Homo sapiens: one gene and its partner. The protein of the gene in region 1 interacts with the protein of each later gene in a biochemical or structural test. Each region holds a gene or a part of one and is shown on either strand. Other genes may lie near its edges.

Evidence for each region. The genes of interacting proteins can lie anywhere in the genome.
Region 2: the proteins of EME1 (region 1) and SLX1A form a complex in vitro, tested with the Homo sapiens proteins (one study listed by BioGRID).

The regions. Positions count from the first base shown.
Region 1 is NC_000017.11:50,376,229-50,379,105, reverse strand, and holds part of EME1 (structure-specific endonuclease subunit EME1), read right to left. Parts: intron 512-2,877; coding exon 425-511; intron 333-424; coding exon 211-332; intron 39-210; coding exon of another isoform or gene 1-38. UniProt on the Homo sapiens protein: Non-catalytic subunit of the structure-specific, heterodimeric DNA endonuclease MUS81-EME1 which is involved in the maintenance of genome stability. In the complex, EME1 is required for DNA cleavage, participating in DNA recognition and bending.
Region 2 is NC_000016.10:30,192,716-30,196,674, reverse strand, and holds the start of SLX1A (structure-specific endonuclease subunit SLX1), read right to left. Parts: upstream 2,801-3,959; 5' UTR 2,591-2,800; coding exon 2,403-2,590; intron 2,243-2,402; exon of another isoform or gene 1,936-2,242; coding exon 1,884-1,935; intron 1,790-1,883; coding exon 1,448-1,789; intron 1-1,447. Other genes in the region: BOLA2B (bolA-like protein 2), read left to right, coding at 3,080-3,142, 3,220-3,317, 3,601-3,700. UniProt on the Homo sapiens protein: Catalytic subunit of the SLX1-SLX4 structure-specific endonuclease that resolves DNA secondary structures generated during DNA repair and recombination.

The DNA of each region.
Region 1 (2,877 bases):
TGGTGCAGGGGAGGAAATCAAAGAACAGCAGCTCCAGGCTGAAGTCAGGCAGAAGATACAGAAGAAGACTGGACCAGAGCATCCCCCTGGACTTGTTAGAGATGGACTACCTTGCAGAGTGACCTACATCTGCAATGAATAAACTAAACTCACCCCCCTTGGCCCAAGAGCTGCCCCTTTTAACATGAAATCACCAGGGCAAATCCAAACCTGAAGCATTTCTCCTGATCCACAATCACCAGTGACAGAGCTTTCCCTGCTGTCTTTGCTGTGATGTCAGTTACAAAGCCCTGAAGCGTTTCCTTCCCTTTCATAGTGCTGTCCAGGCTTCCCTGCATGAAGGGGCAGAAACTGCATTAATACTTGCTTCCTAGTAAGAGTCAGCCCTCTGTTCCGTGTCCTCCCACCCTCTGGCTCTGCCCACCTGCTTTCCATTGTCGATCATGGACACAAATGCCTCTGCCCGGAGCAACACCAGTACTGTTGGCTCCTCCACCCAGTCCTCTCTGTCCTGCCAAAGTACCCAGAACACAGCACAGGGAGGGAGGTCAGCAGGTATTGAGCACCTGTGAGAGTGGCCCAGGTCTTCTGGGTGAATGAACTAACTCCCACCCCTTATGCATTATCCTTTCTGGAATGAAGTCACTGTGGCAAGAAACAGTGTCGCTGTCCCTCCCAGCCCTCAATGATTCAGTCTTGGTGCCCTGCATCTCAGAGACAGTGAATAAGAAAGGAACATAGCAGCCGGGCGCGGTGACTCACGCCTGTAATCCCAGCACTTTGGGAGGCCGAGGTGGGCAGATCACGAGGTCGGAGATCAAGCCCATCCTGGCCAACACGGTAAAACCCCATCTCTATTAAAAATACAAAAATTAGCTGGGTGTGGCGGTACGTGCCTGTAATCCCAGCTACTCGGGAGACTGAGGCAGGAGAATTGCTTGAAACTGGGAGGTGGAGGTTGCAGTGAGCCGAGATCATAACACTGCACCCCAACCTGGCAACGGGGCTAGACTCCATCAAAAAAAAAAAAAGGAACATAGCAGGCCAGGCACGGTGGCTCACACCTGTAATCCCAATCCCAGCACTTTGGGAGGCCTAGGCGGGCGGATCACCTGAGGTCAGGAGTTCGAGACCAGCCTGGCCAACATGGTGAAACCCCGTCTCTACTAAAAATACAAAAATATTAGCTGGGCGTGGTGGTACACGCCTGTAATCCCAGCTACTTGGGAGGCTGAGGCAGAAGAATCACTTGAACCCAGAAGGCAGAAGCTGCAGTGAGCCGAGACCATGCCATTGCATTCTAGCCTGGGCAGCAGGGTGAAACTCTGTCTCAAAAAAAAAAAAAGAGAGAAAAAAGGAACATAGCAAGTTGAAAGGGGCTGGGGCCATTTTGAATACGGGAATGGAGGGAAGGGAAACTCTTCCAAAGGTTAGTACAAGTAAATGACTCTGGCTTTGAAGGCAGATGCTGTGAGCCGAGTGGTCCTTACAAACAGATAGGTTTTTTTGTGACAAAGACAAGAATCACAAGGGAAACTTCAGTCTATGAGAGTACCTCCTGTTTATCACAGGTAGGGCATAATCAAAGTCAAGGATGCCTCAAGGCCAACAATCCTCCAGCAGTACAGTATTATGGAGTAATTGGGGAACAGGACTTTGATAGAAAGTTTTCTGATTGGGTCCCTATAAGCAAAGCAAGACCTATATTACAGCAAAGTGTAGGTTTGGGGAGCTCTGGGTTCTCATTCCCGTTGTGATCCTCAACAAGGCTTTTAACTTTTCTGAGCCCCAGTTTCCCCACCTGTGATGTGGGGAGAAGTCCTACCCCATAGGATGACTGATGGAAACACAAGAGAGAATGTGGGAGTGCCTTGAGAGGGTAAGCTGCTCTATGAATATAAAGGCTTGCTAATACCCCCAGAGTAAAAAGTGTGGGGAACTGTCCTGTGTTACTGAGAAAGTTATCAGATCCAAAAAAGAAATCAAAGAGAGGAAAAAAAAATCTTTTTTCTTATTTTATACAAGATGCTTCTGGTGAGATAAAAAAGAATCTTAGTGCTAGGCAAGGTGCCTCACACCTGTAATCGCAGCATTTTGAGAGGCTGAGGCAGGTGGATTGCTTGAGCTCAGGAGTTGAAGACCAGCCTGGGCAACATGGCAAAACCCCGTCTCTACCAAAAATACAAGCTACACTCTGCAATCTCTACAAAAAACACAGGGCCCACATGTCTTCTGGCTCCCAGCTGGGTGTCACCAGCAGGGACCCGAGGAGAGGACTAGTGGGAAGGAGAAAAGTGAAGTCAGGGTATTTTTCCCCTGGCTCCCTCCCAGTGGGGTCACCTAGGGTTTGCTGTCCCCCTCTGTGGCAGCTCATAGCTTCGCTCAAGGTGGTCCTCTCTCCATTTCTCTCTCCTGAATTCTGTTAACCACTCCTTCCCCTCATCCCTTCAGGCATAGGGATGGTAACAGCTATGCCAATGGTTCTCAACCGGGGGTGATTTTTCCCCACAAATGACATCTGGCAGTGTCTGCAGACATTTTTTATTGTCATGACTGAGAGGGGTACATTAGTAGATAGTGGCCAGGAATGCTGCTAAACATTGTGCACATCATAGGACAGCACCCAAAACAAAGAATTCTCCAATCTAAAATGTCAACAATACTGAGGTCGAAAAACCTAAGTTGTGCTGTTATTACTGTGAGGTACCATGCTGTCACTGGTAGTTTCCTCATACCCTGCCCATGCCTTGGCAAACAGTCCCTTTATTCAATCTTCTTTTAATTACCCTGAGTTGAATGTGCCATCTGTCTTCCTGCTGGGGCCCTGATAAGTATCCTTTAAAATAAAAGCATATTTATCCTGTAATTGTAAGGGGA
Region 2 (3,959 bases), on another chromosome or scaffold:
CCCAGGGCAAGTCCTCTACTCACTCACAATTACCGGGAGCTCAGTAGAAGGCACCCATCGTCCATTATTTTATTAAATATTTAGGCCGGGCACGGTGGCTCATGCCTGTAATACCAGCATTTTGGGAGGCTTAGGTGGGCAGGATCACCTGAGGTCAGGAGTTTGAGACCAGCCTGGCCAACATGGTTGAAACCCCATCTCTACTAAAAATACAAAAATTAGCCAGGCGCGGTGGCAGGCGCGTGTAATCCCAGCTACTCTGGAGGCTGAGGAAGGAGAATTGCTTGAAACCAGGAGGCAGAGGTTGCAGTGAGCTGAGATCGCGCCACTACACTCCAGCCTGAGCGACAGAGTAAGACTCTGTCTCAAAAAAAAAATAAATAAATAAATAAAAAGAAAATTTCTGGGCCATCGGCTCAGTGCAGGACTTTGTTCTACAGCAGTGATAAGTGCTGCCCTCTGATAGTGCAGTGTGGCAGTTGGGGTGGGAGAGGCTAATGAGATCAAGAAAACACGTAGCATGCCAGACAATAGTAAGTGTTAAGGGAAAGGGGGTGCAGAAAAGTGCACACAAGAATGAGCTGCAGTTCATTACATTGTTTTAGAGACAGGGTCATGTCCAGGCATGGTGGCTCACGCCTATAATCCCAGCACTCTGGGAGGCCGAGGCGGGCAGATCACTTGAGGTCAGGAGTTTGAGACCAGCCTGCCCAACATGGCGAACCCCATCCCTACTAAAAACACAAACATTCGGCAGGTGTGGTGGCACACTTGGGAGGTTGAGATAGGAGAATCGCTTGAACCCAGGAGGCGGAGCTTCCAGTGAGCTGAGATCACTGCACTCCAGCCTCCGCAACAGAGCAAGACTCTGTCTAAAAAAAAAAAAAGGGCCGGGCGCGGTGGCTCATGCCTGTAATCCCAGCACTTTGGGAGGCTGAGGCGGGCGGATCACGAGGCTAGGACATCGAGACCATCCTGGCTAACACGGTGAAACCCCGTCTCTACTAAAAATACAAAAAATTAACCAGGCGTGGTGGCGGGCGCCTGTAGTCCCAGCTACTCGGGAGGCTGAGGCAGGAGAATGGCGTGAACCCAGGAGGCGGAGCTTGCAGTGAGCAGAGATCGCGCCACTGCACTCTAGCCTGGGCGACAGAGCTAGACTCCATCTCAAAAAAAAAAAAAAAAAAAAGAGGGTCATGCTCTGTCGACCACACTGGAGTGCAGCGGAGTACTGATGGCCTAGGGAAGAACCTTTTCTTTGAAGGGGAAATGGTGAAGGCCCTGAGCAGGGCCTGCTTTGCTCAGGAATGGCCGTAAGTCCTATAGCATCAGCATCTTAGAGATGGGGATAGGGTGGCCAAAGCGTGTCAGTGGGTTTCCCTCAAGAAAGAGCTGGATCCGAAGTCGTCTGGACTCTAGAGCCATCCATTCCTCGGGGGGACCTCACCTGGATGGTCTGGGCGCACAGGGAGCAGCAGGCCCCTGGATCCCCCTGGTCTGGCTCAGGCTCCGCGTCATCAAAGGGACCTGCGCGGCGCCTTGGGGCCGGGGCCTGGGGCGGTGGAGGCCCGAAGGCCAGAGGCACGTGCGGCGGCGGCGGGAGGCAGAGGTCCTGGCGGAGGTCTGGGCGCACCCAGCGCAGCGTGAGCGGGAGGCGAGCCCAGGGCGGTGCGCGCAGCATGTGCGCCAGCACGCGCAGGTGGAAAGCGAAGGCTGTCTCTCCTCGCAGGCGAGGCCCCACGTGCGCCAGGCGGCGCGAGGCGTGCGGGTGCTGCCAAGCCCACTCAAACTGCGGGCGGCGTACAGGGGCATCAGGGCGGCTCGGAGCGAGGGGCGGAACCCAAGCCCTCACCCGGCCGCCGCTGCCCGGTCTCCTTCCTTACCCGAAGGGCGGCCACGGAGGACGGGAAGCCGTGCACGACGAGCACCATCTCCCTGAGGAGGAGAACGGTGATGTCCCTGTCGCAGCCCAGCGCCTCAGCCGCGGGTCCCCTCCAATCCCACCCGAGAGCGGGGTCCTCATTCCCGGCTTCAGCCGAGAAGTGCAGCCCTCTGCACCTGCCCACCTCAGGCCCTGCCTCCAGCCCAGGTACCCACCTGTCCCACCTCCTCTCTCTCCTGCATTCCACCCGACCCCAGCGTGCCCACCAAGAGCCCTATGCTGGAACCCAGCCTGGATCATCACCCCCGCCCCAGCTAGCTCCTTCCCTGAGTTCCGCCGCGGAGATGCCCCGGGCACCGCCTCCCCGTCACGCTCCTCCCCTGCGACAGGCCCCGTCCCCACCACAGACGCCCCGCCTCTGTCACAGTCCTGGCCGGTCCTTCTCAACAGGCCTGTGCCCCGCGGGGTCCGCCTCCTCTGGGACGCCTTCCTCCCGGCACAGAAGGCCTCCCCCTCTCACCAGGGCCCTCGCCCGCTGGTCCGCCAGGCCCCGCCTTTTTTGCGGCCCCCATTGTGCTGCTGGACCCGACGAGCAGTGTTGACAGTGAACCCCACGTAGACGCGGCCCCGGTACCGGGGGTTCAGGCAGTAGAGCAGGTAGACGCCGAAAAAGCGCCCTGGCCTCGCCGCGACCCCCGCGGGACCCATCGGGCCTTGGGGTTCGGGAACCACAGCAGGGGGTTGATTGCCGTGACCTAGGGTCCAGGGGAGGGCTGGATCGCTAGGGCTGCAGGGTGCTTGCTTCGGAACAAGCTCTCGGGGACTATCCGGAGGCAGCCTGCAGGAAGCCGTAGCGCCGGTACGTGCCCCTCTCCTGTCTGGAGGCGGGTGTAGAAGTCCGACCGCGGAAGCCAGACTGCTGTCCAGTCGGCGAGCGCGTACCATTCAGCATCGGCTCCGCCCGAGTCCCACCTTCCTCAGGCTCTGATTGGCTGACACATGGCAAGCGCGAAAAGCCTGGACCGCTGGAAAGCCCGGCTGCTTGAGGGCGGAAGTACTGCGTTGACGTACGCCTTAGTAAGGGCGGAAGTGAGTTTTCCAGCGGAAGTGGCTCCTGTAAGGCAGCAAGGTAGCGTGGCCGGCGCCCGAGCTGGGGTTGTGTCCCTGCTGGGCTGCCGTTCCAGCTGGACTGCCGCCATGGAACTCAGCGCCGAATACCTCCGCGAGAAGCTGCAGCGGGACCTGGAGGCGGAGCATGTGGTGAGTTGAGCCGCCGGACAAGGGGAAAAGAGCTCGGGGGGCGGGTTCGGCACCATTCATATTCTTCCGCTCGGTAGGAGGTGGAGGACACGACCCTCAACCGTTGCTCCTGTAGCTTCCGAGTCCTGGTGGTGTCGGCCAAGTTCGAGGGGAAACCGCTGCTTCAGAGACACAGGTAAGGCCCTGGGAGCACCTTGCCTAGCTCCTGTACCACAACCCCAGCCACTCCCCCTACCCCTGCAACCTGACTCCCGCACTCCCCCTGGCGTGGCTCAGGGACCTTGAGGATCCCGCCTTCGTGACCCCTGCTTCGAGTATTTCGATGTAGACCCTCTCTCCAAGTACGTGTTCCCACGGCCTGGGGACTACAACCTTGGGGACACCAGTCTCTTGGGTCACCCTAGCCTCGGGGTGTGCGATCACCGCTGGCCTTTTCCTAACCCCATCTCTCGCCCCAGGCTGGTGAACGCGTGCCTAGCAGAAGAGCTCCCGCACATCCATGCCTTTGAACAGAAAACCCTGACCCCAGACCAGTGGGCACGTGAGCGACAGAAATGAGGGACTGGGATCTGCACAGCCATTAAATTATAAATCTGGACCAGCTTCTGTGTCGATGTGTGTGTGGGAGGGGTGCTGAGGCCGAGTCTAGGACCTGGCCTCTCCCTGCCCTGCCTCCGTCCATTGTTTTACCTTGGACACGTCTCTGTCCCCATCTAGGCCTCTATCCCTGCTTGTAAAATGAAAGTTCTACCGTAAAAGTCCCTTCCAGGGTCTACCGAGAAAGCCTTCTCTCTGCAACTCCGTTTAGACATCTAGG